3 linked regions of the Homo sapiens genome follow. The protein of the gene in region 1 purifies or fractionates together with the protein of each later gene. This does not show direct contact. Each region holds a gene or a part of one and is shown on either strand. Other genes may lie near its edges.

Region 1 (8,640 bases):
TCCTTTCCTTCTTATTTATCCTAGACTTCTCTGGATTCGAACTTCTTCATCTGGAAAATGAGAAGTCATCTGTCCCAAGCTCCCACAGTTGTTCTGAGTCTCAAGTAGCATAACATAAGTGAGAATGTTTCATTAAGTACACTGTACATTATTAAAGTGAGAGATTAAATTATGTTTATAATCAAGGAGTTGAATTATCTTTTGAAGTCACGCCCCCAGTCCTCTACTTACCACCATGCATTCTTTCAATTCTGTTTGAACTGCAAGCACTGCAGTGACTTCGTCATTTGGACGTACTGACTTGGGAATGTCAAAATTCTTTATTATGATCTTCCGACTGATTGTGGGAAGAGAGAATCAGAACACCAGGATCAGAGACCAATCTTTGAGTGAGGGGGGAGCCATGAACAGGGCAAGGGGCACAGGATGGGCAAGGGAGGGAAATTATGGGGCTTGGATCAATTGTTCAGCATTGGAATCCCCTGGAATTTTCATGTGTTGATTGGATTGGTAACTTCACACAGATTTAATTTTGTTTAATAAAACAACTAGGACACTTTAAGATTCCTTAAAGAACTAAAAGTAGAACTACCATTTGATCCAGCAATCCCACTACTGGGTATCTACCCAGAGGAAAAGAAGTCATTATTTAGAAAAGATACTTGCACATGCATGTTTATAGTAGCACAATTCACAATTGCAAAATCATGGAACCAACCCAAATGCCCATCAATGAACGAGCATCTTCTTCCCTTCCATTGACCAAAAACAAGTTTTTAAAAAGAAAAAATGTACAATACCACATGCCACTTCCTGATAACATCCTACAGGCTCTGGTGGTTGTCTACTGAGTAGGAGGGCTCAAGTCATTATTAGGAGAAAATTTTCTAGCAACAGAATCACATTAAACCAGCAAACCTCTTGATCAGGGAAATGCAAATCAAAACCACAATGCGATACCACCTTACTCCTGCAAGAATGGCCGTAATCAAAAAATCATAAAACAGTAGATGTTGGCGTGGATGCAGTGATCAGGGGACACTTCTATACTGCTGACGGGAATGTAAACTGCTACAACCACTATGTAAAACAGTGTGGAGATTCCTTAAAGAACTAAAAATAGAACCACCATTTGATCCAGCAATCCCACTACTGGGTATCTACCCAGAGGAAAAGAAGTCATTATTCAAAAAAGATACTTGCACACACATGTTTATAGCAGCACAATTCACAATTATAAAACTGTGGAACCAACCCAAATGCCCATCAATCAACGAGTGGATAAAGAAACTGTGGTATATATATATATATATATATATATATATATATATATATATATATATATATGATGGAATACTACTACTCAGCCATAATAAGGAATGAATTAACAGCATTTGCAGTGACCTGTATGAGATTGGAGACTATTATTCTAAGTGAAGTAACTCAGTAATGGAAAACCAAACATCGTATGTTCTCACTGATATGTGGGAGCTAAGCTTTGAGGACTCAAAAGCATAAGAATGATACAATGGACTTTGGGGACTTGCGGGGAAGAGTGGGAGAGGGGTGAGGGCTAAAAGACTACAAATATGGTGCAGTGTATACTGCTCGGGTGATGGGTGCACCAAAATCTCATCACCACTAAAGAACTTACTCATGTAACCAAATACCACTTGTACCCCAGTAACTTATGGAAAAATAAAATAAAATAATAAAAAATTTTAAAAACCCAGCAAACATCTCAATGCACTGGAGGTATTTGTAGGAGCATCTTTGAAGATCCTCCTTCTGTGGTCCCCAGGTAGGGTTTAGGAATTTGTATTTATTTAGCTCCTTAGGAAATTTGGACATATGGCCATGTTTGGGAACTTTAGATACTACTCTACATTTAGACCATACACTGCAATCTGAAAAGGAAAGGAAATGGAGACAAATAAAATGGTCAAATGTTCTTCTTCAGTCAATGAGGACTGGGTTCGGGGCCAGGAGAGTTATTTTCTCGTCCCTAGAAACTCCCGGCTACGGACCTTTGTTATTGTGTGGGACAGAAGGGAATTGAGATTCTTAGCCCACAGTGTCTCACAGCCCCATTTTCTTGGGGCAAAGCATCTTAGAGAGATTCTATTTTTTGGTGCCAACTGCTGTAGTGCCCAGTGCACAGGAAAAGGGTATAAATACCTAAGCAACTTCAAAATCTCTCCCATTTGTATATGAGTTTCAGATTGATAGGATGACCAGCTTAGTTCGAGTGACTAACCATCTCAGTTTACCCAGGACTGAGGTCTTTTCCAGAATGGGTTGTGGAGGTGGCGGGGGAGGGCAGAGTTGCAGTGCTACAACCAGGAAAGTTCTGGGCAAATCAGGATGGATGGTTGATAACCTAATTAGCATAGCTTATTTGAATACCTTGCTGCCCTTCAGGGCTAAGTGGACTGTCATCTGGCGGGAATGGGGTGGGATCTGAACCTGTCCCCATGCAGGGTTTCTTGGGACACTTGCCTCCATTACATTAGCTTGTCAAAACCCTGAACAGTTTCCTCCAGGACAGGATATCTGACCATGCCATAGAGAGTACCTCCAAGATCACAACCCAGAAACCCAGCATTATAAACCCTACTGCTATAGAGAAAACTCCCTAGATTGGGTATCGCTGCTTTCTCCCAGACCCTTGGCTCCATTTTCTACTTTATTTTACTTGCTCCAATTTTTCTGCTTCCTTCACACATGTGTTCTCAATAAGTTGACTTCTGAACCTGTGCTCTCAGGTCCCAGTATACGTGAGAGCAAGAGGTCATCATATTCATCTTCAGACTTCAGGTTAGGAAGAATGTCTAAGCTGCCAGTCTAGCTCAATCTCAGACCACAGGGCAGTGGCCAGGGCCTCTGGTCCTTTAGCCAGTCCTGCCAAAGCTGCCCTAAGCTGCCATTGGAATTCACAGACCTGTTATGCTTCTCTTCTAGGAGGCAAGGTGTGAGAAGGTAAAGTTTACTGAGCAGAAATCTGAACAAAGGTATAAATTATGAACAAGATGTGGATCAGCATGTTAGATGAAGACTAACTACTAATTACAGCCTGTAGGTACATTTGGAGCTTTATTTCCACTGGCAATGCAGAAACACCCAGCAAAAATGTGAGAGGAGTTGGTGGGGCTTCCTAAGAGGACAAGAAGTGGAACCTGGCAGGAGATCCATGGGAGCTCCTGGGACTAGAGTTCTGGGAAGTTGAAAGAAATTCTCAGAAAGAGATATGTAATTTCCAGACTGGGAGAGGAGCCCTCCCTGCAATTTTTTTTGTGGGGAGGAGAAGGGCATGGCTCACGTGTTGTCCTGAGCTTTGTTGGCCCCCAACTGCAGGCAGAGAACCAGGAGCAGGGTGGCAGGGCTGGCCCTGAACAGGAGCTGGAGCAAGCGCATGCTGGAGAAAACAGAAGGCAATGTGTCCCAGAGAAGTGGTGTCCCAGGTGCCCAGCACATTTCTTATATACAGATTGATCAAGGAAGTGCAAGAGCTGCCAGGGAGATCCATGAGGTGAATCACCCATTCACCCTCCCCACTCGTGATCTTTCCTTGTTGACCCAAAGTTTGTTTTTCTAAGAAAAAATCAACACTCAGCTAGAATGTCAGCGTTTGAGAGAGGAGTCAGATTGTTCTTCCTTATTTTTTCAGCATCAGAGTTTCTCAAAATGGCTGGGACCTCAAAAGATACACCAGTTTTTCCCGAGTTTACAGATTCAGTTTTCTTTTCCCTCCTAATTTGCCTGTCTGAAGTGCTATGTGTAGTCTTAGCTTCAGTCACTGCTCCCCTGGTCTCTGAAAGCAGAGAACACAGCTGTGGTGGCAGGTTTCAGACCAGAGACATAGAACATCTTTGCTTGATCAAATTATAGTGAGTTCAAGATGCAATGCTATTCAAAACATTTCTTGGAGGGCTAGGATGATCAGGACTTCCCTAGCAGTCACTACCCATCATGAGGTGGAAGAGCTAGAGAAGACCTGAGCTGCTCTACATGATGGGGAAGTGAGTTCAAGACACTGGGTGATGTAAAGATGTTTATTGTCATTGAGTCCTTCTTAATTTCAGGTGTGGTTGCAATATACTGCAGATGTCCAAGATCCCCAGCTGCCCCACAATCCCCAAGGCAGGGTGATATTTTAATTCTAGACAATTCCTATAAATAGCTGGCACCCCCAAATCAGACTTCTTGGCACCAAAGAGCTGGCTTATTTTCTTATTGACATGGCCACTTTCTTACACTTGTCTCATGCGTAAGCCACACAGGAAGAACCACAGTGGAAAGGATTCCTTCTGTGAGAATGGAGCCCACATTATGTCCAGTAGATACCCAGGTTGTAGAATTCCTCTCCTTGGGATGATGGGGAGACTTGCTCTTGCTGACACTGGCATTGTGTTATTTCTCCTTATGAAATTAAATCTGCTCCTTAACCTATGACTTACAATACTATGGGATTTGTTTCTATCATTTGCATGGCACACAGCTGCCCAGGAAGAGCCTCTCTGGCAACAGAGTGAAAATCAGAGTTCTAGGAGTTACCGCCTCTGTATGTTGCTTTAGCCAGGATTCAGAGCTAAAGTGTAAGTGTGTGCTTCTGCTTTCTGGATGTATCTCTCAAAATTGCTCTGTCTGTTTATTCAGCTCCTGGATCTACCTTCTCTTTTCTTTGAATTGGACACCATTCATGTCATTGCTCACTCAGAACTTCAGCTGTTCTCATGATCACATGCTTTCTTCCCTGTTTATGTCCTATCCACTCAAGAACACTGCTTGTGAGGGTCACAATGACCTTCCTTTGTAAGCCTTTTCCCACAATTAAATTGTCTTTACACCTGGTCCTTCTCACTTGCATAATTTCCATTTGAAGCACATCCTAGCTACACTGACCAAGGCAGGCATAAGGCAGAAGAATCTAGGAAGTGTCTGTGTGGGAAAATGCAGGAAAAGTTCTTTGCTTGGCTCTTTGAAGGCATAGCCCTGTCCTTGAGGATGCAACTCCAGCACTCCCAAAAGGCAGTGTCCAGAGGAAGGCAGATGACGATGGGTTAAGAGCATCTATTGAAGGTAATGAGGCTGTTCTTCTGTGAGCTAGCAGGAAACTGCAATACCTACAATGTACAGGACAATCTTTTTTTTTTGAGACAGAATCTCACTCATCCAGGCTGGAGTGCAGTGGCATGATCTCAGCTCACTGCAGCCTCCACCTCCCGGGTTCAGGAAATTCTCATGCCTCAGCCACCCGAGTAGTGGGGATTATAGGCAGGTGCCACCATACCCGGCTAATTTTTGTATTTTTGGTAGAGATGGGGTTTCACCATGTTGGCCAAGCTGATCTTACATTCCTGACCTCAAGTGATCCACCTGCCTCGGCCTCCCAAATTGCTGGGATTACAGGTGTGAGCCACTGTGCCTGGCCTAGGACAAGTCTTATTCAGGCCATGACTGCTGTGATGGTTACTTTTATTTGTTAGCTTAGCTAGGCATGGTGCCCACTTTTTGGAAAAACAACAGTTTAGAAGTTGCTGTGAAGTTGTTGTTTGTTTGTTTGTTTTAAATGTGATTAACATTTAAATCAGTAAAATTTGAGTAAAACAGATTACCTCCATAATATGGGTCAGACTCATTGGATCAGTTGAAAGTCTTAAGAGAAAAGCTTGAGGTCCCTTGAGGAAGAAGATTAGGGAGAAAAAGAAACCATAATTATTATGCCATAAAGAATGAACAAGTCTAGGTTTAAGAAATCAGATAAAGGTTGATAAAATCAGATTGTAAACAACTCAGGAAGCTTACAGAAGAGAATGTGTATAGTCCCATAGGGAAAGAGTTAGAATATAGGTGAGGCTTGCCACAGGCTAAGTTTACAAAGAGAAAGATAATCTTAGTCCTGACAGGGCTCATGAGAAGAAGATAAGGAGTGGACAGAGAGGGAGTTATAGACACCAACACACATGAAGCATATGCTGTGTGCATTACACTGCTCTAAACATTTTAACATATATTAGCTCAATCTTTATTACAACCCTGTGAAGGTGGTTGCCATTTTTATTCCATTTTACAAGAGGAGAAACAGAGACCCAGGAGATAAATATCTAACCCAGACCATATAGCCAGTATATGGCAGAGTCAACTTTGCAAGCAGGTTTTGTGGAATCTGAGTTTTGATTTACAGTATCTGAGAACCTCTTTTTGAAATAGAATCCAAACTTACAAATGTAAACTACAGGTACAGGATCTTGGAGGAGGCACCCATAAGTAGGAAGCCCTGAGGCTTCATGCCATTAACTTAATGGCGAATACACCTTTGGGTGGGGCCAGAATTTCCACGCTGGCAGTCTGGCCCTGGAACATGACCCTTTAACCACTGCACTGCCTACTGGCGAGAACAAGTTGCAAAGTTAGTAACTGGCAGAGTTAGGGGTTCAAAATCAAGTAGTCTGATACCAGAGTTTATGTCCTTAAACACTTGTCTAGTCTATTTATTGATGTAGCAACAGTTTAAAGTTGAGAAAAGGAAACTCACAGAGGTTTTAATAAGTTGTTCAAGTCACAGAGCCAACAAATAACAAAGGTATTGAAGTTTGGCTTGGCCATATGACTAAGCCAAACCATTGGAACCCAGATAGAAGTGAATCCGGAGTTGGCACTTAGAGTGACTACTCTATATTTCCTCTTACTTAATAAAAGCATAATTGGCACAAGACTTGTAGAAGGGCATCTAATGCATACTGAAGATGTAAGATGTAATGAGTTGTTTCTTAGAGGAGGTTATATCCAAGCAAAATCTCTCAGAGGTGAGAGAAGCTGGAGTGTGACTCTTTTCTTAGAAACTCTGTCATCTTTAGTGTCATTTCTTTCTTTCTTCCTTTTTTTTTTTTTTTTTTTTTGGTGGAGTTGCACTCTTGTCACTCAGGCTGGAGTGCAGTGGCGCAATCTCGGCTCACCGCAACCTCCACCTCTTAAGTTCAAGTGATTCTCCTGTCTCAGCCTCCTGAGTAACTGGGATTACAGGTGCCTGCCACCACACCCAGCTAATTATTTTTATTTTTAGTAGAGACGGGGTTTCACCATGTTGTCCAGGCTGGTCTCAAACTCCTGACCTCAGGTGATCCACCCCCCCTTGGCCTCCCAAAGGGCTGGGATTACAGGCGTGAGCCACAATGCCTGGCCTTTAGTGTCATTTCTAAGGTCACCCTGGTGATGTAGGGGCCAAGGGAAAACTTTTTTTCTGCCTTCTGAAGTTTCACTGAGAAATAAACTGACAAAAAGTAGATTAATAGGAGAAATGGCATACAAGTTTATTAACGTGCATGGGAGAGAATGATGACCTCCAACTCCTCAGTGGGAGTACAGAAGCTCATGTACCATCTTGAGGTTACAAAAGAATGAGGTCTTGGAGCATGGCCAAAACCAGGTTATGGTAGTAAATCAGGTTACAGTGGTGCTACAGGTTATGGGAGGGGAAAAGAGGAAGCCTGGCTAGCAAAGGTGGTCTTGCTATTGTCGACCAAAAGAGTTAAACTCTGTAAAATATTTTAGGAGATTTATTCTAAGCCATATATGAGTGATCATGGCCTGTGACACAGCCCTCAGGAGGTCCTGAGAACATGTGCCCAAGGAGGTGGGGGTACAGCTTGGTTTATATATTTTAAGTGAGGCATGAGACATCCATCAAATACATTTAAGAAAGACATTGGTTTGGTTCAGAAAGGTGGGACAACTCAAAGGGCAGGGGCGGGGGGAGGGGTCTAGGCTATAGGTAAATTTAAACATTTTCTGTTTGACAATTAGTTGAGTTTATCTGAAGACCTGGGGTCAATAGAAAGAAAATGTTCAGGTTAAGATAAAGGATTGTGGAGATCAAGTTTTACTGTGCAGAAGAAGCTCTCAGATAGCAGACTTCAGAGATAGCAGGTGGTAAAATGTTTCTTATCGGACTTAAAAGGGTGCCTGGCTCATAGGTGATTATCTCCTGGATCTGGAAAGGAAGGAAGGAAAAGAAAGGAGTAAGGGGATTCTCTATAGAATGTGGATTTTTCCCACAAGAGACTTTGCAGGGCAATTTCAAGGCATGGCAAGGAAATGTATTTGGGGGTAAAACATTTTGATTTTCTTCCTTGTTATGCCAGAGTCAGATTGGAAAGTAAGTCACCATATACAGGGTTAAAATAAAACCCATCTGATGAGCATTTATGGTCTCCAGACCCCTTAGATAGGAATTTGGCCAAGATTAAAACAAACAAATACACACACACAAAAACAGAGCTTAGTCCTCACTATGCAGGTGAAATCTCACAGATAGTAGCCCTCAGAGAGAATAGGTAAATGTTTCTTTCAGACCTTTAAAGGTATCAGACTCTCAGTTAATCTTTCCTAGATCTGCAAGGGAGGACCTCAGGAAAAGCCTGTTGCATCAATGCAGATTCTCTAGAGACACAAATCTCCCCACAAAAGACAGCTTTGCAGCACTGCTTCTGTTTGCAGATCCTCTAACAGCCATCTCAAAGTATGTCAAAGGAGTATATTTTTGGGTGAAATAGTTTTGTTTTCTTCAGGTATTAGTATTCAGCTTTTAAGAGGTGAAAGAGAGAATGGAGAATTATGGAGTGTTTTATTTTTTTTTTAATG
Region 2 (7,575 bases), on another chromosome or scaffold:
TTACAGGTATGAGCCACCGCACCCGGCCCACATCCGGCTAATTTTTATATTTTTAGTAGAGATGAGGTTTTGCCATGTTGGCCAGGCTGGTCTCGAACTCTTAACCTCAGGTAATCCACTCGCTTCCACCTTCCAAAGTGCTGGGATTACAGGCATGAGCAACCACACCCAGCCTAAATTCTTTTTTATTTTTATTTTTATTGAGACACAGTGTTGCTCTGTCGCCCAGGCTGGAGCGTAGTGGCACGATCCTGGCTCACTGAAACCTCCGCCTCCTAGGTTCAAGCAATTCTCCTGCCTCAGCCTCCAAAGTGGCTGGGATTACGGGCACCCGCCACCATGCCCAGCTAATTTTTGTATTTTAGTAGAGACGGGATTTCGCCATGTTGGTCAGGATGTACTCAAACTCCTGACCTCAAGCGATCCACAGCATCGGTCTCCCAAAGTGCTAGGATTACAGGCGTGAGCCATCACATCCAGCCAAGATTGTGAGACCAGCCTGGCCAACATGGTGAAACCCCATCTCCACTAAAAATACAAAAACTAACAGGGCATGGTGGCAGCCACCCGTAATCCCAGCTACTCTAGAGGCTGAGGCAGGAGAATTGCTTGAATCCGGGAGGCGGAGGTTGTAGTGAGCTGAGACTGCGCCACTGCACTTCAGCCTGGGGAAAGAGTGAGACTCCACCTCAAAAAATGATAAAAAGGAATGCTAACAGTAGTTATGCCTAGATGATGGAACCACAGAGTAATTAAGTTTCTTCTGTTAAACACTCTTCTGAATTTTCCACAAGTGGTATTAATCTAAGGCTCACGCCTGTAATCCCAGCACTTTCCGAGGCAGGCAGATCACCAGATCAGGAGATCGAGACCATCCTGGCTATCACGGTGAAACCCCGTCTCTACTAAAAATACAAAAAAATTAGCCGGGTGTGGTGTTGGGCGCCTGTAGTCCCAGCTACTCGGGAGGCTGAGGCAGGAGAATGGTGTGAATCTGGGAGGTGGAGCTTGCAGTGAGCCAAGATCGTGCCACTGCACTCCAGCCTGGGCGACAGAGCAAGACTCCGTCTCAAAAAAAAAAAAATCATCTTTTTCTACACAGTGGCTATAGTGTAGTAATGGTAAGACACATAATTCTGGCTGATCATAGTATGATTTTCTTTCAAAATCTGAAAGAAACTAAACCGGCCGAAAGAGGTGGCTCATGCCTGTAATCCCAGCATTTTGGGAGGCCGAGGCAGGCGGATCACCAGGTCAGGAGATCGAGACCATCCTGGCTATCACGGTGAAACCCCATCTCTACTAAAAATACAAGTGGTTATAGTGTAGTAATGGTAACAGACACGTAATTCTGGTTGATCATAGTACGATTTTCTTTCAAAATCTGAAAGAAACTAAACCTGCCGAACGAGGTGGCTCATACCTGTAATCCCAGCACTTTGGGAGGCCGAGGTGGGTGGATCACCTGAGGTCAGTAGTTTGAGACCAGCCTGACCAACATGATGAAACCCCGCCTCTACTAAAAATACAAAAAAAATTAGCCAGGTGTGGTGACACGTGCCTGTAATCCCAGCTACTCGGAAGGCTGAGACAGGAGAATCGCTTGAACCTGGGAGGTGGAGGTTGCAGTGAGCCAAGACCATGCCACTGCACTCCGGCCTGGGCAACAAGGGCAAAACTCCATCTCAAAAAAAAAAAAAAGAAAAAGAAACTAAACCATAAAATACCAAAAACTTGTACAAAATAATGAAGACTTAACTTCAAGATGCTGCACATAAGACACAAAAGTTGAGCCTTCGTAATAAAGAGAAATGGAGAAACTTCTAAAAGAGACAAAAGATTCTTAATTAGCTCCAAGTAAAAGACTTAGTAAGAAGCAATAAAGAAATTAATTAAAGTATTTCTGAAAAACATGCAGCCATGAGGATATCTGAGTGTTCCCAATTTCTGGGACTCTGATGAGACTAATAATGAAAAAAGAAAATACTCTAATGCTCTTGGGGTGTATGAGGTCTGTAAACAAGCATTTACTTCTAAACGCTTTTAAATATAGCTGCATTGTAAAAAAAAAAAAATAAGTAACAATAAAGGAAAGCCAGCCCTCCCTTAAACAGACCCTGGACATTTTTGCTGGTATAAAATCAAATTGTTCACTGGTATCTCCTCTGTATCTCCCTCTTTTTCTTTTTCTTTTTTTTTTTTTGAGATGGAGTCTCACTCTGTCGCCCAGGCTGGAGTGCAATGGTGCGATCTCGGCTCACTGTAAGCTCCACCTCCTGGATTCACACCATTCTCCTGCCTCAGCCTCCCAAGTAGCTGGGACTACAGGCACCCACCACCACGCCCGGCTAATTTTTTTGTATTTTTAGTAGAGACGGGGTTTCGCCGTGTTAGCCAGGATGGTCTCGATCTCCTGACCTCGTGATCCTCAGCCTCCCAAAACTGGGATTACAGGTGTGAGCCACTGCGCCTGGCTCCTCTGTATTTCCTCCTACTGGAGCTTAGCATAGTGCCTGATGCACAGCAATTCTTCACTACATGAGTTATTATTTTTATTATTTTATTATTAGAACATAAGATGGTACCATGGACAAAGGTTACTCCAAAACAACAATCTATTACATTTCTATAGGTCTGTTTGCTAATTTTTTTCTTTTTTCCGTTTAGGTACCAAGGGAAGATCTTATTGCAATCACTGTTTCTTGGGTTTCTTATCCCTGATACCTCTTTTGGGCCCCCTGTATGGCTCTGCAGAGTGAGTCTTCAATCCGTGATGGACTAAAAGAAGTCTGAACTGCCTCAGAACCTTACCTCTTCCTTGGGCTTTGAGGCCCCTCAAGGTTCACATCTACTCCAACAATGGCTCTTCATAGCTTAGTCCAGTTTGAATACATTCATATGGGGCCCGGTGCAGTGGCTCACGCCTGTAATCCCCAGCACTTTGGGAGGCTGAGGTGGGCGGATCACCTGAGGTTGGGAGTTCAAGACCAGTCTGGCCAACGTGGTGAAATCCCATCTCTACCAAAAACACAAAAATTAGCCAGGCGTGGTGGTGGGCACCTGTAACCTCAGCTACTCGGGAGGCTGAGGCAGGAGAATCACTTGCACCCAGCAGCCGGAGGTTGCAGTGAGCCGAGATCGCGCCACTGCACTCCAGCCCGGGCAACAAGAGCAAAACTCTGTCTCAAAAAAATAAAATAAAATAGGCCAGGCACAGTGGCTCACGCCTATAATCCCAGCAGTTTGGGAGGCTGAGGCAGGCAGATCACAAGGAGTTTGAGACCAGCCTAGCTAATATGGTGAAACCCTGTCTCTACTAAAAATACAAAAATTAGCCAGGTGTGGTGCCTGTAGTCCCAGCTACTAGGGAAGCTGAGGCAGGAGAATTACTTGAACCCGGGAGGCGAAGGTTGCAGTGAGCCACGATCGCACCACTGCACTCCAGCCTGGGCAACAGAGCAAGACTCCATCTCAAAAAATAATAAGAAAAATAAATTTAAAAAAAATAAAAATAAAAAAATAGGCCAGGTGCAGTGGCTCATGCCTGTAATCCTAGCACGCTGGAAGGCCGAGTCGGGCATATCACGAGGTCAGGAGTTCAAGACCAGCCTGGCCAACATGGTGAAACCCCATCTCTACTAAAAATACAAAAATTAGCCAGGCGGGGTACCATGCGCCTGTAGTCCCAGCTACTCGGGAGGCTGAGGCAGAAGAATTGCTTGAACTCAGGAGGCGGAGGTTCATCTCAAAAAAAAAAAAAAAAAAAAAGAACAATGTCTTCTATGCTTCTTTGAAATAACTCCATATGTTTATAAGACAGACATGACTCCTTAAAATGGAAATTGATTTTTTTTCCATGTGAATATATTCATTTTATTTCATTTATTTTTTTTTTTTTGAGACAGAGTCTCACTCTGTCACCCAGGCTGGAATGCAGTGGCACAATCTCGGCTCACTGCAAGCTCTGTCTCCCGGGTTCACGCCAGTCTCCTGCCTCAGCCTCCCAAGTAGCTGGGACCACAGGCGCCCGCCACCACATCCAGCTAATTTTTTTGTATTTTTTAGTAGAGAGAAAGTTTCACCGTGCTAGCCAGGATGCTCTCGATCTCCTGACCTCATGATCTGCCCGCCTCGGCCTCCCAAAGTGGTGGGATTACAGGCGTGAGCCACCGTGCCCGACCAGAATTGACGTATTTCTATTCTTTTGCCTGGGTTTTGTTTCTTTGTATTTTTATTTTTTTGAGACGAAGTCTCGTTTTCTCACCCAGGATGGAGTGCAATGGCATCATCTCGGCTCAATGCAACCTCCGTTTCCCAGGTTCAAGTGGTTCTCCTGCCTCAAGCCTCCCTAGTAGCTTGAACTACAGGCGCACGCCACCCAGCCCAGCTAATTTTTTTGTATTTTTAGTAGAATCGGGGTTTCACCATATTGGCCAGGCTGTTCTCGAACTCCTGACCTCAGGTGAGGAGTTCATTTCCACGGCCCCCCTCGACCTCCCAAAGTGCTGGGATTACATGCCTGAGCCACTGCACCAGGCTTTTGTCTGTTTTTTTTTTTTTTTTTTTTTTAATGAGACAAGGTCTTGCTCCACTACCCAGGATAAAATGCAGTGGTGCATTCATAGATCCCTGCAGCCTCACACTCCTGGGCTCAAACAATCCTCCTGCCTCTGCCTCCCGAGTAGCTGGGACTACAGGTCCATGCTACCACATCCAGCTATTTTTATTTTTCTGTAGAAATGGGGTCTTGCCATCTTGCCCAGGCTGGTCTCCAACTCCGGGGCTCAAGCAATCCTCCCACCTTGGCCTCCCAAACTGCTGGGATTACAGGCATGAGGCACTGTGTTCCACCCATATTTCGATTTTTAAGGATACTAGCCAACTGCAGGGTTTGTGATAGAAGTTATCCCATTAGGCCATTTATATGCCCCATGCCAGAGGAGTCCCTGGTTTAGGGGCATTTTCATCACGGTTCTATTTTCTTTTTTTCTTTTCTTTTTTTTTTTTTAAATGGAGTCTCGCTCTGTCCCCCAGCTTGGAGTGCAATGGTGCCCTCTCAGTTCACTGCAACCTCCGCCTACAGGTTCAAGCGATTCTCCTGCCTCATCTTCCCGAGTAGTTGGGATTACAGGCGCCCATCACCATGCCCTGCTAATTTTTGTATTTTTAGTAGAGACGGGATTTCACCATGTTGGCCAGGCTGGTCTGGAACTCCTGACCTTAGGTGATCCGCCCGCATTGGCCTCCTAAAGTAATGGGATTACAGGCATGAGCCACTGCACCCGGCCATGGTTCTATTTTCAATCAGGAAACTAAAATTTGTATTTTTCCCAAATATTGACGGATTGTAAACTGGCACAACCACTTGCATTATCTAGTGAAGCTGAAAATATCCATTCCACGAACCTGAGCAATTTTACCCATCAGTATATATGAAGGAACTTTTTTTTAAACAAGGGTACTTAATACAAGAATGTTCACAGCAGCATTGTTAAGAGCCAAAAGCTGGAAGCAACCCAGATATCTATCAATAGTGGAATAGATAAATACCTTATGGTGTATTCATACAACAGAATACTACATAAAAAATGGAAATGAACAGCTGCACACAATGTGAACAAATTTCAGAAACATTATGCTAAGACAACATAATACAGCATGACTCCATTTATACAAAACTCATAAGGAAACAAATCTAAACTAGGTTAAGGGCTACGGAGATGGTAAATGTAAAAAGAAGAAGAATGTTATCACAGAATAACAGCTGTCTGTACGGCTTGAGAAGCTGTGATCAGGAAGGGACCCACGAAGGGTTCAGAGATACTGGCATCGTTTTATTTCTTGAAAAAGTAGTACTTTCGCCAGCATTTACTTTATAATTTGTCATTAAATTGTACAGAGATCGCCTAAATTTACATGGATGGATAAATATTTCACAAATTTTAAAACAAAGAAAAACATGGGCGGGCGCAGTGGCTCACGCCTGTAATCTCAGCACTTTGGGAGGCCAAGGTAGGCAGACCACGAGGTCAGGAGTTCAAGACCAGCCTGACCAACATAGTGAAACTCCGTCTCTACTACAAATACAAAAAATTAGCCAGACATCAGCCGGGCACAGTGGCTCACGCCTGTAATCCCAGCACTGTGGGAGGCCGAGGCGGGCGGATCACGAGGTCAGGAGATCAAGACCATGCTGGCTAACACGGTGAAACCCCGTCTCTACTAAAACTACAAAAAATTAGCCGGGCATGGTGGCAGGCACCTGCAGTCCCAGCTACTCGGGAGGCTGAGGCAGGAGAATGGCGTGAACCCAGAAGGTGGAGCTTGCAGTGAGCCGAGATCGTGCCACTGCACTCCAGCCTGGGCAGCAGAGCGAGACTACGTCTCAAAAAAAAAAAAAAAAAAAATTAGCCCAGCGTGGTGGCGGGCACCTGTAATTCCAGCTACTCCAGAGGCTGAGGCAGGAGAATTGCTTGAACCCGGAAGGTGGAGGTTGCAGTGAGCCGAAATCGTGCTACTGCACTCCAGCCTGGGCGACAAGAGTGAAACTCCATCTCAAAAAAAAAAAAAAAAGAGAAAAGAGAAAAAGAGAAAAATATTAGCCTTCTGACACAGCCACCATTTCTACCTACAGTTTTGCCCTGGCCTGAAGAGTGAGACCAAAGGAGCACTCCTTCCCTCTTTCAGCAAAGGAAGAAATTAATCTACCATTTCTTCATGCAGCCACATCAATTTAATAACAGAAATCACAATCTAATGTAATAACTAGGAAAAAATACAAAGGAAGCATTTAAGTGAAGTCTGAAGAGGACTTAAAACATCTGGAACAAAATGCAGTACAACAGAATAACAGAAAAGAACAGGTAATAGGCCAGGCGCGGTGGCTCACGCCTGTAATCCCAGCACTTTGGGAGGCCAAGGTGGGAGGATCCCGAGGTCAGGAGATTGAGACCATCCTGGCTAACAGAGTAAAACCCCGTTTCTACTAAAAAATACAAAAAATGAGACAGGCATGGTGGCGGGAGCCTGCAGTCCCAGCTACTCCGGAGGCTGAGGCAGGAGAATGGCGTGAACCCAGGAGGCAGAGGTTGCAGTGAGCCAAGATTGCACCACAGCACTCCAGCCCGGGCAACAGAGCGAGACTCCGTCTCAAAAAATAATAATAAAAATAAAAAGAAAAGAACAGGTATTCATGTAACACCTAATTCTAAGGCTAATTCAGAAATCAGAGACCCTTACAGATCAAGAGTGGCCATTTAAAAAGCAGACAAGAAAGAAATATGGCACATGAAGTATAAACCACAACTAATTAAACTAAAAGAAAGCATATCCAAAAAAAAAAGCATATCCAAAGTAAGGAAAGACATCCCTGATTCTGAAGCTGCCTTAAAGAAAGGCAGCCACATCCAGAGCCCCTGACTTTGGTTACTTTCCTAGAGCAATTCAAATTTACAAGAAAATTAAACCACTATTTGATCTTTAGTTTGAAATGGCAACATAAGCTGGAGAGAGGATGTGGAACTGCAGAGGTTCTCGAAGAGTTATAGGAAAAATTCATCAGAGAGGACCCGAAGG
Region 3 (7,575 bases), on another chromosome or scaffold:
CACCATCCCAGCCCTGATCAGCCTGTCTGTGCATCCCCCATCCCAGCCAGGGCTTGGAGCAGCCTTGCTCACCACTGTGTCCCCTGCATTGTAACACATCCAGGCACAAGAATAGCCGCCCAGTGACTGCCAAGTGAGTGAACCAGCCTGCTTGGAGCCTGCCTCTTTCCCAAACTGCTCATTATCCTGTTACCCCACCCAGCCCACGTGTCCAAATACACTCCAGATGCAAAATAAAAAGCTCTACGACATTGGCTCTGAATGTTCTGTTTATTGGGGTGTTGTCATGGGTAGGAGGCTCAGCAGAGCCATTCTGCCTCCTGCTTCCCAGTACTACCCCGTCCAGCAACTGCCTCTCGTATAAATAAGTATCAAGATGGTCAGTAGAAAAGGAGAGCATCTCCTCAGCCCTGGAAGACAGTGTGGGAGCTTCAGCTTAAGGAAGAGGTAGGTGCCTGTCCGCCAGCCCAGCCTCAAGGGCCAGGAAGACCTGGCTATGGGTGCTGGAGGGGCCGTTAGCCACACCCCAGGGTTCTACAGTCTTTGGTTTGGATCAGGCTGCAGGCCAGGGTCCTGGCTGGCAGCCCCACCCACCCTGCGCCTCTGACACACACCCAGCGCTTTTCCCTGCAGGGGCCCGGGATTGGATGGGGCCCTCCTGAGTGCAGCAGCTCTGAGTTGCAAGGGGAGGCCCACTTTCCCAGCCTCTGAACCTCCTTTCTGCCACTGCAGTTTGCTGGGAGAAAGGAGAGAGAAGCCTGGGGGTCAGGCAGGAGGTGTAAGTCCTGAGGCCGGATCTGGTGCACAGAGGAGCGAGGTACTGTCACAGTGCTGGCACAGAAGCTGGGATGTGGCTGTGGTTTGGGTCTGCAGGAGGTCAGCAGAGTCCGCCGAGGAACACGGAGGATCCCACAGGGCCACAGCAGGGCAGGATACCGCCCAGCGGTATCAGCCCTCAGGCCGCATCCAGTCCCATGGGGTCATGCCCTCTGAGCCTCTTGTCGCTCAGCACTCAAATGGCTCCCTGGTGAAGACATGGACTGTCACTCTCCCCAGATGGTCCAGCAGCGCCTGCATCTGTTCACCAATGATGCTGACCCTCTGAGGCGCCACAGATGAGCCTGACCCAGTCCCTGGCCTCAGCCAGCTGGCAGCCTGGAGGCTGACAGGGAGGCAGGTTAGAAGTGATTCATGTGTCCACAGGCACCCTGTCACACCATACCCTGTGACATGTGAACTGAATGCTCTCAGGGCAGCCCCTCAGAAGCCTTCCCGGCAGATCCGGGGACCCCGTTCTGGTTTTTCTGACTCACTGCCTCATCACCTTCCTTCCAGGTCCCCAAAACCCCTGCATCATGATGGGGCCAGGTGCTACCTGGTCTCCCAAGGCCCTTCAGACTTTTCCACGTTGGTCTCGTGTGGCACATGACACAATCTCTCCCGTCCCTGGAGGCCAGCTCCCCCGTGGCCAACCTCAGGCCTCCCATGGCATCTCAGGGCTCCTCCAGCCAGACTGGCGCCATCCAATTAACCTGATGGTGGCTGAGCAGCTCAGCTCTGTGCCAGCCCCTGCAGGAGGCAGATCATGTTGTCCAGGCCCCAGAGGTAGCCGTCCTCACGGTTGCCCTCAGCCCAGGGCAGCCTGTGGCTGAGCGTCTGGTGGTCGGGCAAGGCCACCGTCTTGCCGAAGTCTATCATCCAGACCTTGGCCAGGCCGGTGTGGTCGTGCACGAAGAGGAGGGAGCTGCCTACCACCTGCCGGGGTAGAGACGGGAGGTTAAGGGAGGAGCAGGCACTGGCCAAGGTCCCTTCCTGACAGGCAGCAGAGCAGGGTGATTGACAGCATGAACCCTGGAGCCTGGCTGCCTGATTCATATCCTGGCTGTGCCACCTCCTGTCTGTGCAGCCTTAGGCAGGTGTCTTAACCTCTCTGTGGTTCTGCGTCCTCATATACAAAGTGAGAGTAATACAGTTAGTCTCCCCAGTCCGTGGTTTCATTTTCTTTGGTTTTAGTTACTCTCAGTCAAGTGCGATCCAAAAATATTAAGTGGAAAATTCCAGAAACAAACAATGTGTAAGTTTTAAGTTGCACATTGGTTTAACTACTGTGATGAAATCTCGTGCCATCCCGCTTCGTCCCACCTGGGATGCGAATCATCCCTTTGTTCAGCAAGTCTATGCTGTATCCGCAACCCACCCACTAGTCACCTAGGAGCCATCTTGGTTATCAGATCGAGAAAACACAGTCTATAGTTCAGTACTATCCACAGTTTCCGGCATCCACTGGGGGTTTGGAGGAGATCACCTGAGGATAAGGGGTCGACTGTAGGATCATTTACCTCAGAGGCTGCTGGGCATATTATATGTAGGAATTAATCTACATTAAGTGCTTAAGACAGTGCTTGGTACATAGCAAATACACAGCAAATGTTCAGTGTGAGGCATAATCAAAATGCACTGCAGCCTTGACCTCCTGGACTCAAGCCCTCTTCCTGCCTCAGCCTCCTGAGTAGCTGAGACTACAGGTGTGCACCACCATGCCTAGCTTTGCTTTTTTTTTGAGACAGAGTCTCACTCTGTTGCCCAGGCTGGAGTGCAGTGACACAATCTCAGCTCACTGCAACCTCTGCCTACTGGGTTCAAGCAATTTCTGGCTAATTTTGTTGTTGTTGTTGTTGTTGTTGAGACAGAGTCTCACTCTGTTGCCCAGGCTGGAGTGCAGCGGCACAATCTCGGCTCACTGCAAGCTCCACCTCCCGGGTTCATGCCATTCTCCTGCCTCAGCCTCCCAAGTAGCTGGGACTACAGGCGCCCGCCACCACGCCCGGCTAATTTTTTGTATTTTTTAGTAGAGACGGGGTTTCACTGTGTTAGCCAGGATGGTCTCGATCTCCTGACCTCGTGATCTGCTCACCTCGGCCTCCCAAAGTGCTGGGATTACAGGCATGAGCCACCGCACCCAGCCAATTTTTGTATTTTTAATAGAGACGGGGTTTCGCCATGTTGGCCAGGCTGGCCTCAAACTCCCGACCTCAAGTGATCCGCCCGCCTCAGCCTCCCAAAGTGCTGGGATTACAGGCATGAGCCACTGCACCCGGCCTTTTTTTTTTTTTTTTTTTCCAAATAGAGACGGGGTCTTGCTGTGCTTCCCAGGCTGGTCTTGGCACTCCTGGGCTCCAGCAATCCTCCCACCTCAGCCTCCCAAAGTGCTGGTATTACAGGTGCGGGCCACAACGCCCAGCCCCTTTTTATATCTTTGACCTGTAACTCATCAATGGTTTCCCCTCCATGCACCTGGACCCCGACACCCATACATCCACCCATGGAAGCCAGGGCTCGCACCTCGTGGGTCTTGAAGAAGGGGGAGATCTCCAGAGCTTCACGAAGTTCTTCTAGGCATGCCACGTACTTTTGCTGTGTGACAGGGAGCGTTCTTTGGTTAGCATGGGGACTTTGTGGGGCCTTGCCCACCTTGAGCTCTGACCTCACCCCATTCCCCCAAAGGAGCAGGCAGGCTCTAGCCAGGATGGAATAGGGGAGCCATGGGGAAGACAGGGCAGAGGAGTGAGGGCTTGGATTCATCAAGGTGGCATGGAGAAGAGTGGTGGATTCCATGAATTTCCACTCCCATCCGGAGGCGGAGTCTGTCTCCAGACCCCTCGATCCAGGCTGGGTCACATGACTTGCCGAACGGCAGAAATGATGGTGGCCATTCTGAGCCCAGGCATCAAGAGGCCTTGCATTTTTACTTGTTCTCTTGGCCCCCTGCCTCCACTGTGAGAGCAAGCCCAGGCCATCCTGCTATCGAGAGACGTGCGGCCAAGTCATGAGCCAACCGGCAGAGCTGGGAGCAGGGCCCCCTGGACCAGCCAGCCTTGCCAAGCCACCAGCTGACCTCAGACTGAGCAAAGCCAGCCAGTATCAGTCCAGCCCCACCCAAAGCAGAAGACCACTGACTCTGGAGCAAGAATAAATGGTGGCTGTCTTAAGCTGCTACATTCTGGGACATGGGTGTCCCACTCACCAGGATGACGTGGTCTCCATCCACGAAGTCCTCCAGCACTTTTGTCACCTGCTCCAGTGCCTGCGTCTTCTTGAAGTTGGTGTTACAGGTCCCATCTGCCTTCTGTAGGGCAGGGTGTGGAGGGGCAGGGTCATGGGCTTTTCCTTCCCGCACCCAATACCCAGCAACCTCAAATACCTCCCAGGAGGCCGGGCGCGGTGGCCAAGACCAGCCTGGGCAACACAGCAAGACCCCATCTCTATTTAAAAAAAAAAAAAATTCTGGTGTGGTAGTATGCACCTGTGGTCCCAGGTGTGGGATCATGCCTATAATCCCAGTGCTTTGGGAGGCCGAGGCGGGAGGATCACTTGAGGTCAGGAGTTCACAACCAGCCTGGCCAACACGGTGAAACCCCGTTTCTACTAAAAATACAAAAAATTAGCCAAGTGTGGTGGCGGGCGCCTGTAATCCCAGCTACTCGGGAGGCTGAGGCAGGAAAATCGCTTAAACCCGGGAGGCAGAGGTTGCAGTGAGCATTGATTGCACCACTACATTCGAGCCTGGGTGACAGAACAAGACTCTGTCTCAAAAAAAACAACTTCCCAGGGCCACCCACCTGCCTGCACACTTGCTGCCAGAGGAGGAAGCCAGCTTACCTGCCCAGCCCAGCTCAACCCAGCCCCAGGTCACATGCCTGAGCCCCAGTCCTTCCACACCCTTCCAACCTTGAACCTCCTGGTTGAACCCATCTAGGAAAGTGGGCTTTGGAGCAGGGTGGAGCTGGCTGTGAATCGTGACTCTGCTCTTTTCTTTTTTTTTTTGACAGAGTCTCACTCTGTCACCCAGGCTGGAGTGCAGTGGTGCAACCTGGGCTCACTGCAAGCTCCGCCCCCTGGGTTCATGCCATTCTCCTGCCTCAGCCTCCTGATAGCTGGGACTACAGGCTCCCGCCACCACGCCTGGCTAATTTTTTGTATTTTTAGTAGCAACGGGGTTTCACCATGTTAGCCAGGATGGTCTCGATCTCCTGACCTCATGCTCCGCCCGCCTTGGCCTCCCAAAGTGCTAGGATTACTGGCGTGAGCCACTGCACCTGGCCATCTCTGCTCTTTTCTAGCTGGGCAGTCTTAAGTCATTTCAGCTGCCTCAGCCTCAGTTTCCTCATCTGGAAAACGGGAATTGTGTTGGTGTCTACTTGCTAAGGCTGGTGTAAGGATTAGAGGAAACCAGGTGTGTAGGATGCACAGCACAGTGCCTGGCATATAGTTATTTGAGACTAATGAGACTAATGTTATCTGTTATGTTTCAGTAGGGCTCAGAGAACCCACCTAAGTCATCTGCCACACTGTGCCAGGTGCTATGTGGGCACTTGGCAATAGGGAGTAACACGACAGACACAGTCAGATGAGGGGGCAGACACTGATTAAGATGATCAGAAAGGAAGATAAGAATAATGAAAGAGTATAAGGAGCTATGAGGAGGTGAAGAGGGGACCCTGATCAGTAGAACAGAAATCAGGGAGGGCTTCCCTGAGGAAGCAAAATTTGAAAGGAGACAGAAAAATGACTGAGAATCAACCAGACCAGGGGGCACAGACGGAAGAGACCAGGGTGTGGTGGCACGCACCTGTGTCCCAGCTACTCAAAAGACTGAGGTGGGGGGATCACTTGAGTTTAGGAGATTGAGGCTGCAGTGAGCTGTGATCGCGCCACTGTACTCCAGCCTGGGGGATGACAGAGTGAGACCCTGTCTCAAAAAAAAAAAAAATAGAAGAGCATTCCTGGCAGAGGGGTGCAGAGGCCTTGTGGCAGGAAAAAGCAAGCCTATTTCAAGTAAATGCAAGTGCTTCACTGTGCCTGAAGGTACACAGAAAGAATGAGAGGAATGAGAGGTTGGGCGTGGTGGCTCACGCCTATAATCCCTGCACTTTGGGAGGCTAAGTCAGGCAGATCACTTGAGGCCAGGAGTTCAAGATCAGCCTGGTCAACATAGTGAAACCCCGCCTCTCTTAAAAATACAAACATTAGGCCGGGCACAGTGGCTCACGCCTGTAATCATCCCAGCACTTTGTGAGGCCAAGGCGGGTGGATCACAAGGTCAGGAGTTCAGGACCAGCCTGGTCAATATGGTGAAACCCTGTCTCTACTAAAAATACAAAAATTAGCCAGGAGCGGTGGTGCACACCTGTAATCCCAGCTACTTGGGAGGCTGAGGCAGAAGAATCGCTTGAACCCGGGAGGCAGAGGTTTGCAGTGAGCTAAGACTGTACTACTGCACTCTAGCCTGGGCAACAGAGCGAGACTCTGTCTCAAAAAAAAAAAAAAAAACAACAATTAGCCAGGCATGGTAGTGCGTGCCAGTAATCACGTCAAGTCAGGAAGCTGAGGTGGGAGAATCGCTTGAACCCAAGAGGTGGAGGTTGCAATTAGTTGAGACTGTGCCATGGCACTCTAGCCTGGGTGACAGAGCGAGACTCTTTCTCAAAAAAAAAAGAAAAGAGAAGAATGAGAGAGAAGAGGCTAGATCCTAGAGGGCCCTACAGGCTATGGAACTTCACTTCAAGGTACTAGGGAGCCACAGAAGGGTTTCGAACAGGAGAATGGCATGGTCGGATCTGCAACAGGCATTCTCATACATTGCTGGTGGGATGTGCAGTGGCATAACACCGAGAGTGGAAGTTTGGTCATCTCTCGCAAATTTCCCATGCCTTTAAGCTTTGACCCAGGAGTCCTGCTTCTGGAAATCTACAGCTCAATCTGCATACTTGCAAAATGTCTTATATACAAAGTGATTCTTTGAGGCCTGCTAATGGCAAAAAATGGAAACAACCCAGGTGTCTGTCTATAGGGGACCAGGCACAGTCACAAAAACAGTGTTACATAGCTGTGGGGGAAAAAAAAACAGAAAGAGGAAGCTTTCTATGGAATGATGTGGAAAACTCTGCAGGGTGTTACTATTAAGTGAAAATAGCAAAGTACCAATCAGTATGCGTACTGAGGAACATTTCGGATCTACAACTCCATTTACTGGCACTAACAGGAAGAAATACAAGAAACTGACAAAGTGGTTCCCCATGAGCAGGTAGAGGGATAGAGGGACAGAATGGGAAGGACAGCAGCAGAGTTGGGAGAGAAATTTCTCCACATTTACCCTTTTATAATATTATTTTGACTTTTGAACTGTGTGACTAGCTATTCAAACAATTTTTTTTTCTTCTAGAAACAGAAGCTCCCTATGTTGGCCAGCTTAGTCCTGAACTACTCCTGGCCTCAAGCAATCCTCCTGCCTTGGCCTCCCAAAGTGCTGGGATTACAGGCATGAGCCACCATGCCTGGCCTATTCATACAATTATATTTAATTTGACAAAGAAAAAGGAATGCAAGAAAGAAAAAGAGAAACCTTCTCCATAGCTGGGGGAAAGGGATCCCTCCAGCTCTTGTGCTGCAGGGAGACCAGGGCCAGGATGCCCAGGGAGACAGAGGCAGGAGAAGATGGGGCTGGACTAGGACATGACCATGGAGAAGGAGAGGAGGAAAAGATGGACTCAGGAGATGCTCAGGCAGACGGATAAA

What was found. Proteins that work in one complex are often made in the same cells at the same time.
Region 2: the proteins of PIP (region 1) and QRICH1 purify together in Homo sapiens (co-immunoprecipitation; 2 studies listed by BioGRID and IntAct, with this or other methods). This does not show direct contact.
Region 3: the proteins of PIP (region 1) and ITPKC purify together in Homo sapiens (co-immunoprecipitation; 2 studies listed by BioGRID and IntAct, with this or other methods). This does not show direct contact.

Annotation. Positions count from the first base shown.
Region 1 is NC_000007.14:143,126,891-143,135,530, reverse strand, and holds the start of PIP (prolactin-inducible protein precursor), read right to left. Parts: upstream 3,455-8,640; 5' UTR 3,415-3,454; coding exon 3,320-3,414; intron 338-3,319; coding exon 232-337; intron 1-231.
Region 2 is NC_000003.12:49,084,072-49,091,646, forward strand, and holds part of QRICH1 (transcriptional regulator QRICH1), read right to left. Parts: intron 1-7,575. UniProt on the Homo sapiens protein: Transcriptional regulator that acts as a mediator of the integrated stress response (ISR) through transcriptional control of protein homeostasis under conditions of ER stress.
Region 3 is NC_000019.10:40,733,537-40,741,111, reverse strand, and holds the end of ITPKC (inositol-trisphosphate 3-kinase C), read right to left. Parts: intron 4,127-7,575; coding exon 4,025-4,126; intron 3,415-4,024; coding exon 3,343-3,414; intron 2,306-3,342; coding exon of another isoform or gene 2,261-2,305; exon of another isoform or gene 1,756-2,260; coding exon 1,552-1,755; 3' UTR 252-1,551; downstream 1-251. UniProt on the Homo sapiens protein: Catalyzes the phosphorylation of 1D-myo-inositol 1,4,5-trisphosphate (InsP3) into 1D-myo-inositol 1,3,4,5-tetrakisphosphate and participates to the regulation of calcium homeostasis.